Linked DNA regions of Homo sapiens: region 1 is linked to region 2. The links come from fine-mapping of genetic effects on plasma protein levels. A gene starts in region 2. The other region holds a variant in brackets. All regions are shown on one strand. Distances are between the middles of the regions.

Region 1 (3,512 bases), 10 kb after region 2:
GACAGGAGGATGCAGGACTCATACCCCATCTTCTCCCCTCACCAGAAATGGGTCAGGTGGAGATCTCTTCTTGCACAGTGGACCGGGACACCGTGTGTGGCTGCAGGAAGAACCAGTACCGGCATTATTGGAGTGAAAACCTTTTCCAGTGCTTCAATTGCAGCCTCTGCCTCAATGGGACCGTGCACCTCTCCTGTGAGCGCAGCTCTCCTGAGGCCAAGCCCTCTCCCCACCCCAGGGGTTGGCCCCTTCCCCATGCGGTGGCACTTCCTTTCCTTCCCCCTCCTGTATTCTGTGGGTCTGACAACCAACTCCTCTCTGGCCGCCCCCACCCTGTCCCTCGTCACTTCCTCTGTCCTGTGGGGTGGGGGTGCAGGCGCTTCTCCTTTAGCTGTGCCGCACTTCTCCCTACAGGCCAGGAGAAACAGAACACCGTGTGCACCTGCCATGCAGGTTTCTTTCTAAGAGAAAACGAGTGTGTCTCCTGTAGTAAGTGAGTATCTCTGAGAGCTGCTGGGCACTGGATGGTGGCATGGGTTGGGACGGGTGACTGGTGGGAACCATTAGCTGGGCAACAGATGCCAGGATGCCCCAGAGTGCTCAGGGTCCTACTGGCTGAGTAGGAGACACTTCGTTAAGACACCAGGCAGTCCTTCCCCTTGCTCTTCAAATCTGAAGAAGTCTTTGAGGATGGAAGATCATGCCCCAAGGGCTGGCAGCCCTTCCAACTCAGATATGTAGATTCTTGGATCTACGATAGCTCATTGGTTCTAGGACATACACTCTTATAGCTCTGAAATCAAACCTCCTATAACTGGTGACTCATCATGGTTGAATTGGCAGCTCTGTTTGCGTCTGGGTAGTAATGTAAAGAAAAGTGCCTTTTATTCTTGATGGCGTCTTAGGTTTGATGCAATATGGTATTTCCTCATTAGTCACTGTCCAGGCCTCCTTACTCCTGGCTCCACAGAGGCTGTTCTTGTCACTCACTTGCAAAGAATAAACTCTGAGGGCTCTCAGAGTTTGAACCCCAGCATAGCCACTTACTGGCTATGTGACGTTGGGCAAGTTTCTTAACATCTCTGAGCCTGACTTTTCTTTTGGTGTTTTTTTTTTTTTTTTTTTTTTGAGACAGGGTTTCACTCTGTCACCCAGGCTGGAGTGCAGTGGTGCAACCGTGGCTCAGCCTCCACCTCCAGGGCTCAAGCCATCCTCTTGCCTTAGCCTCCTGAGTAGCTGGGATTAGAGGCACACACCACTACACCCAGCTAATGTTTTACTTTTTGTAGAGACAGGGTCCTACTATATTGCCCAGGCTGGCCTCGGACTCCTGGGCTCAAGCGATCTTCCGCCTCAGCCTCCCAAAGTGCTAGGATTACGGGCATGAGCCACCACGCCTGGCCTGGGCCTTAGATTTCTTATATTTAAAGTAAGCATAATGACATTCATTTGGTGAATTTGTGAGAACCAAAAACAAAGAAACAAACAAAACCTACAACACGTCTGACACAAAACTATTTATTTTCCATTAATCTTCTTTTTTTTTTTTTTTTTTTTTTTTGACACAGAGTCCTGCTCTGTCGCCCAGGCTGGAATGCAGTGGCGCGATCTCGGCTCACTGCAACCTCTGCCTCCCAGATTCAAGCAATTCTCCTGCTTCAGCCTCCCAAGTAGCTGGGATTACAGGCACGTGCCACCATGCCTGGCTAATTTTTGTATTTTTAGTAGAGATGGGGTTTCACCATCTTGGTCAGGCTGGTCTCAAACTCCTGGTGATCCACCTGCCTCTGCCTCCCAAAGTGCTGGGATTACAGCCGTGAGCCACTGCACCCAGCCGGCTTCATCTCTTCTTGAAATCACTTTTATACCATTCTATGTGGTTCTCACCATGAGCTTGAGTGGTGGGCTAAAGTGCCTCTCCCTGCTTTCAGCTTCCTGCTGGGAACTCACTCTCTCAAGTTCCTTCCAGCACCACCCCATAGAGTTCCCATCACTCCACACTGTCCAGTGACAACTCCCAACATGGAAGATCTGCTAGTTCTACAGGGTGCTCTCTGGCTGCCCCAGTAACATGTGTTTTTAAATTTTTCACATGCATGTTTGACCCCGACTCCCCGAAGTCAGGTACTGTAACTAGCAGTGTCATTTAAGAAAAAGCCCTTTAACCTCTCTTTGCCAAAGGATTCTTATCAGCAAAACAGTGATGAAACAACAATCCCATAACAGCTAGCTGGCTACCTTCTCAAGCACTTATTAAATGAGGCATAATGATTTTGCTTAATCCTCAATCCTGAGAGGTGGGCGATCCCTGTGGTGATGAGGAAACCGAGGCTTGGGGGTTAATGGCTTGCCTAGATTCACACTGCTAGCCAAGGAATGAACTGGAATTTACACCCTGACCCTGACTGCTTTTCACATTTTCTACACAGCCTTTTCAAGATCCCTGCCAATTCTAAAATTAAATGATTCTATGATTAACTGTGTTTCATTCTTCTGCATCAGTTCCCAAAACAAATTATATCAAGAGACAGCAAAAATATTTGTAAAGAAAGGATGTCCAACAATCTGTGTGGTTGTTTTTCTGTGTTCCTCCAATGGTAGGGCCTCTGTTCACCAGTGCCGTCTCTTCTTTTAGCTGTAAGAAAAGCCTGGAGTGCACGAAGTTGTGCCTACCCCAGATTGAGAATGTTAAGGGCACTGAGGACTCAGGTGAGGAGA[A/G]GTGACCTGGTGCCCATGCTCACCTGCCCTCTCCCTCTTCTTGCCCCCACCCGTCCATCCATCCCACCCATCCATCTATCCCTGCGGCCCCCCTCTGCCCGCTCCTCTGACCAACACCTGCTTTGTCTGCAGGCACCACAGTGCTGTTGCCCCTGGTCATTTTCTTTGGTCTTTGCCTTTTATCCCTCCTCTTCATTGGTTTAATGTATCGCTACCAACGGTGGAAGTCCAAGCTCTACTCCATTGGTGAGTGGGGGCTTTGGGAGGGAGAGGGAGCTGGTGGGGGTGAGGGAGGACATGGGTGGGTGCGATGGACATGTGTGGAGGGAGGTGAGGAGTGTCCCCTCAGTTCATACCGCTGGGGACTCTGGGCAGAAGGTGGCCCTGGATGGCTGGGGAGATGTCGAGCTGCATCAGTAGCTCTCTCGTCCCTGGGGCCACATAGGCCCTGAGGCATGTCACCACAAGTCCCCACTGCCAGCTGAGTCCAGGGTGCCAGGGCTGAGAGAGGAAGTGAAATTTATGATGCTTTCTTTCTTTTTCCTCAGTTTGTGGGAAATCGACACCTGAAAAAGAGGTGAGATGAAATGAGAGAGTTACTCCCAAATGTCCCTGACCATTCCTTATAATTGCCTAATGCTCAGATCCCCTGGAATCATCCTTCACTTTCCGGGGGCTCGCCTCATTCCCTCTAAGTCCCAACCCCCACGTAGAATAAAGAGGGCCGGGGCTGGTTTTCGCTGCCGCACTAATGCTGCGCCACCTTCTCTCTTTCAGGGGGAGCTTGAAGGAAC
Region 2 (5,519 bases):
CAGCCTGGGCAACAAGAGTGAAACTCTATCAAAAAAAAAAATAGGACATTGAAGTTGGTTTCTTTTTTTGATACAGAGTCTCGCTCTGTCACCCAGGCTGGAGTGCACTGGCAGGATCTCGGCTCACTGCAACCTCTGCCTCCTGGGTTCAAGCAATTCTCCTGCCTCAGCCTCCTGAGTAGCTGGGATTACAGGCACGCGCCACCACGCCTGGCTAATTTTGTATATTTAGTAGAGACAGGGTTTCACCATGTTGGTCAGGTTGGTCTCGAACTCCTGACCTTGTGATCCGCCCACCTCAGCCTCCCAAAGTGCTGGGATTGCAGGCGTGAGCCACCGCACTCTGCTTTTTTTTTTTTTTTTTGCCGCCCTCTCACATACCATACTCCCCTGTATCACTTATCCTTCTGAAGTTGTTATTAATCATTAATACAACTAGCTGGGCATAGTGGTGTGCGATGGTAGTCTTAGCCACTCGGAAGGCTGATGTGGGAGGCTAGCTTGAGGCCAGTAGTTCTAGGTTAGGTGAGCTATGATTGCACCATTGCACTTTAGCCTGGGTGAGAGCAAGCTCCTGTTTCAAAAAAAAAATTAATTGCTACCACTTACTAAATGCTTAATATATGGCAAACACTTGCCAAACACTTTATATGCTTGATTTAAGCATCAAGCTAGCTCTGTGAAGGGTACCAGCAGGTTTCCCATTTTTTAGATGAGCAGACCGAGGTTCTTCTCGCTGCTTCATACTGGAAACTTGCACTTGATTCTGAGGCTCCTGCTTCTTCAAGAACACTGCTTTGGGTTCGCTTCTCCTGTCCCTGGGGTCTCCCTTTGTGATGGTGGTGAGCTGCTTCCTTTCTGAATCCAGCTTCAACCCTACAGTTCTCCAGAAGCTGGACGATGGGGTGGAGTAAAGTCAGCTCCCCCCGCAGTGAGGGACACTGAAGCTCCATTCTCATCTGCGGATCACAGAGGGGAAGCCAGGAAGAGCCAGGGGACGGTGGACTTGGGGCTGGGAGGTCATCTCAGAGGGATAAGGGGTGAGGAGCTCTGGTTTCAAGTTCCAAAGCCCTAGGACCTCCCTCTTCTCTGTCTGCCTGCATTTCTAGCAGCCTCAGCAGCTGCAGGCCCTTGGGCGGGGCTGGATGTAGGGAAGGTCATTGTACCAAGAAGATAGTTGGGTAAATGTGGTACCTTTGTTGTAGGATTCTCTTGGGAGATGTCTGCATCAATGAGGATGGCATAAAGTAACCAGAGTCAGGATGTGGGGTCTGACTCAGTGACAGAAAAAGTGGCAGTGTGTCTCTCATAGCCAAAGGGGCCCTTGGACCGGCAGTCGGGAGTCTGGGGTTCTCTGTTGGCTCTGCCTCCTGGCACATTGGGTTTCTGGACCTCAGTTTTCTCCTCTATAAAACCGGGCAGTTGGGTGGGCACGGTGGCTCACACCTGTAATCCTAGCACTTTAGGAGGCTGAGGTGGGCAGATCATTTGGGCCCAGGAGTTCAAGACCTGCCTGTGTAACATGGTGAGACCCTGTCTCTACAAAAAATACAAAAATTACCCAGGCGTGGTGGTATGCACCTATAGTCCCAGCTGCTTGGGAGGCTGAGGTGGGAGGATTACTTGAACCTGGGAGGTCGAGGCTGCAGTGAGCTGCGATGGTACCACTGCACTCCAGCCTGGGAAACGGAGCGGACCCTCAAAACAAAAACAAAAATGAAAAACAAGCAAACGAAGAAATAAAAAAACCTAGGGGGTTGTAGTCGATGATCTGTAAGGTGAGTTATAATTGATGTATTGGAATATTTAGGAAAAGGGCACTGGGAATATGCTAGGAACACCTGATGGAGGTATCTTTATTTCCACGGCAGCTTCGTGGATACGTCTCATTGATTCTCATGGCATCACTTTCCCCATGTAGGTGGGCAGACATTGTTACCCCTGTTTAATAAACAAGGAACCAACAGAGGCTTAGGAGAGGAGTTGCCTGATGTCGCATGATTGGTGGCAGAGCCAGGATCAACAGTGGGGCAGGGTGGGGGGACCTGGCCAGGCAGAGACTGGATGAGACCTGGGGTGAGGAATGGCAGGCACCCAGTCAGGGCAGAAAACGAGGGTTGGGACTTACTTTGAGTTTTGGATTGGATCAGTAAATTCCCAAGAAAGAGGGAGACTAGGAGGCTAGTGAAGAACTCTGGAGTAAAGGGGAGGATTACTAAGGGACATGGAGTACCTATCATGTGTCGGACGCTTATCTATATCTCTCCCATCTGAACAAATCCTTACAGGAACCCCAGGAGACAGGTTATCTCCACTCTGCAAATTGGAAAACAGATCCAGACAGTTTCAGTTATGTGTCTGAGAAGTTCATTTATGTGTCCAAGACACATTCTTAGCTAAAAAGCTAAGCATTCTGAATTGGAACCCAGAGAATTTGACTCCCAGACTCTGGATCTTTTCACTGCTGTGATCCATCTGGGAAAGGCTAGTGATGTGGGCAAGGGGCTTATTGCCCCTTGGTGTTTGGTTGGGAGTGGTCGGATTGGTGGGTTGGGGGCACAAGGCAGCCAGATCTGGGACTCCTGTGCTTGTGACTGGACTACAAAGAGTTAAAGAACGTTGGGCCTCCTCCTCCCGCCTCCTGTGGCCTCCTCCTCCAGCTCTTCCTGTCCCGCTGTTGCAACACTGCCTCACTCTTCCCCTCCCACCTTCTCTCCCCTCCTCTCTGCTTTAATTTTCTCAGAATTCTCTGGACTGAGGCTCCAGTTCTGGCCTTTGGGGTTCAAGATCACTGGGACCAGGCCGTGATCTCTATGCCCGAGTCTCAACCCTCAACTGTCACCCCAAGGCACTTGGGACGTCCTGGACAGACCGAGTCCCGGGAAGCCCCAGCACTGCCGCTGCCACACTGCCCTGAGCCCAAATGGGGGAGTGAGAGGCCATAGCTGTCTGGCATGGGCCTCTCCACCGTGCCTGACCTGCTGCTGCCACTGGTGAGACCAGGGACAAAGGGAAGAGTGGGCTGGTGGGCGAGGCACCTTCCGGCTGGCGTGGGCCCTCTCCGGGAGGGGGCCGAGCCTCTCCTGCCCGGGCCTGGTCCTGGCGCCAGCCTCAGGCCTGCAGGTCCTAACCTCAGCCACTGCCAGTGTGGGGTTCCCCATTCATCCGCCTTTTGGAGTAGGGGCTGCGCTGAGGCAGGGGAATGGGAGAAGTTTGAAAGGGAGAGAGTAAAAGGAAGCCCTGGCCCCTGACAGCGGTGGAAGTTTGTGGGCGGCCAAGGGAATGTGGGCAGGAGATAGGCCCAGGGTGGGGCAGATTTGGCGGGGAAAAGAAGGGAGTGGGAGTAGGAAGATTAGTGCTCGGGGAGTCCAGACGGTTCTGAATTCTGTCCCTCCGGTCAGCTGGCTGGCCTGGAGGGTGTTGGGCCGTGGGGAGGCGAGGCTGCCTGTGGAACTTGGTGGAGCACACCCTGTAGGGCAGGATTTTGGCGGCTGGTGAAGTGGGGGAGTGAGTTGAGGAGTGGGGATGGGCTGGTGTGGTGGGTTTGGGATGCTCATGGTGGGAGGTATTTGAGAATGGGCTGGGACACTGGATGGGGCAGGGCAACCCAGTGGACAGTGTCCCCAGTGCCCTGGCCAAGCCCCGGCCTCTCACCTGGGGACATTCTTTACCCTTTTGCCTGCTGCTAGGCAGGTAGCCGCTGTGGGACTGAGCCTTCCCAGGGAGCTAGTCCTACCCCCACCTGGTCAGTGTCCCTGGGCCTGTCCTCCAGCTTCCCCTCCCCGCTGCTTCTCACAGACCTAAACAACAATCCCTTGGTTTCTTATTCTACAGTTCAGTTTGGGGAAGTTGGTAGAAAGTTGTTTTCGTCACTGGAAAATGTCCCTTTCTCTGGCCTCAGCCTTGTTTCAATGTATCCTTGATCGTCCTCCACGTCTTGGTCCGGGAATCATCCTGTTCAGATGTCCTGGGCCCATCTAGTCAGGCAGATTTTCCCTGCCCTGCCCGGCCTCTGAAGGCTGCGCCTACCTCCCCTCTCTTTAGTGCCTTATACTCTTCCTCTCCTACCATTCCTTTCTTCCAGCAATCTCCCCAGACTCTCCTCAGACTTCTCAGAGCCTCTTTTTTTGAAATCTTTTCTCGCTAATCCTCCTTCCCCTCCTCTCTGCTCCGCTCTGGTCCCGGCCCCAGGTCCCCAGGCAGCACGTCTCTGGTCAGGGTCTCACTCTTCTTCTTCTGCCTCCTCCTGCCTCCTTAGTCCCACCCGCTCTTCCCTTCTTCCCACTGTCCTTCCCCCACGGTCTCCCCACCAGCCAGCTGCCCTGACATCCTGCTTCTGTTTTCTGTTTGGGGGCGGCCCCTGGCTCCCTCACATACCTCCTGCATGAACAAGAGCAGCTTATATAACCTAACCTTCCATGCCTTCGTTTCTTTATCTCCAAAATGGGTGTCACAGTCTTGACCTCATACTGTTGTTTTGAAGATTGAATAGACTGATACATGTTAAGTGTTCATTTGATTTATTAAGTGTGCGCTCTGGGCTAGACACTGTGATAGGTGCTGGGATTACAGCAGAGAACAAAATCCCTGCCCACAGCTTTGACAGTCCATCAGGGGAATAGGTTGTAGCAAATAGAAAGCACTCAATAAAGTTTTTATATTGCTGTGACTAGTAGTAATTACTGGGTGGCTACCTGTGTTGGGAAAACAGAGGGTAAAGGTAGCCTGAACAGGTAAAGGGAAGTGCCTGCGTCCTGGGGTGCTTCAGCCCAGGTGGGATTATGTCTCCTAAGGGACAGAAGCCTGGCCTGGAGCTGGAGGAAAGGGAAAACAAAGGGAATGCAACATCCTTCTGAATTTCTCACCATTCAGTGGGCAATGCAGAGCTCACAGTGTGTGTGTGTGTGTGTGTGTGTGTGTGTGTGTGAGAGAGAGAGAGAGAGAGAGAGAGAAGTGGGGTAGGGGAGTAGGGAAGAATGATACAGGAGAGACTGTGGCAAAGCAAACAGGATTTTGCTGCTCTCAAAGAGCTTACAGCCTAGTAACCAAGATGGCTTACAGTGAAAAATGATTTCAGAGCAATCCCGAGGAAAATATCCACAAATGCATTGTGATGTGGTGTCCTGGAGCACCAGTTGGGAGGAGGAGGAACTGGGGAAGGAGGTGAGCCTTAGTCCACTGCCTTTCCTTGCTTAGCAGGTCTCAGCTCCTGCGCTCAGCTCCAGAAAATTCAGGAGCTTCCCCACGCTGCTTCAGTGTCCTTCACTGTGCAACTGCAGCACTCCCTGTATAGATCTCAGTGCCTACAACTGACTGTCTTTGACTCAAGTGAGAGCTCTTGAGAGCACGAGCTGTGTATTATCCACCTCAGCATCCCTAGCACCCATACGGGACCTGTCACATTAACTGTGCCCCTTAACTATTTGCTGAAGGAATTAAGGAACAAGAGATGTGTCAGATGGGATGGCGGAGGGAAAGCCTCATAGAAAAGTGGATGTGGAGCTGACATCTGAAGTCAC

Which allele goes with the higher level. Alleles are on the strand shown, and positions count from the first base shown. The strength of an association depends on the size of the effect and on how common the allele is.
With allele A in place of G in region 1, the plasma level of the protein whose gene starts at base 2,693 in region 2 is higher (weak association).

The links. PIP is the posterior inclusion probability: the model's chance that the variant is causal. Protein levels are from antibody-based Olink assays in UK Biobank. Linkage for the fine-mapping came from a reference panel and not from the study's own genotypes, which makes the PIPs less certain.
Region 1: its variant is fine-mapped to the plasma level of the TNFRSF1A protein (UK Biobank, PIP 0.98).

Annotation. Positions count from the first base shown.
Region 1 is chr12:6,330,050-6,333,561 of GRCh38, reverse strand. TNFRSF1A (TNF receptor superfamily member 1A) reads left to right here. Exons shown (of 10, transcript NM_001065.4): 4 at 46-195; 5 at 415-493; 6 at 2,636-2,709; 7 at 2,851-2,964; 8 at 3,267-3,295; 9 at 3,496-3,512. Among named protein-coding and RNA genes, the nearest start is that of TNFRSF1A, 10 kb to the left of the region's middle. RefSeq lists an enhancer at 3,195-3,324. The variant A/G (reference allele first, on the strand shown) is at 2,719.
Region 2 is chr12:6,339,250-6,344,768 of GRCh38, reverse strand. It overlaps TNFRSF1A (TNF receptor superfamily member 1A), which reads left to right and starts at 2,693. Exons shown (of 10, transcript NM_001065.4): 1 at 2,693-2,993. The coding sequence starts at 2,955. It also overlaps the pseudogene RN7SL391P. RefSeq lists an enhancer at 2,791-2,890.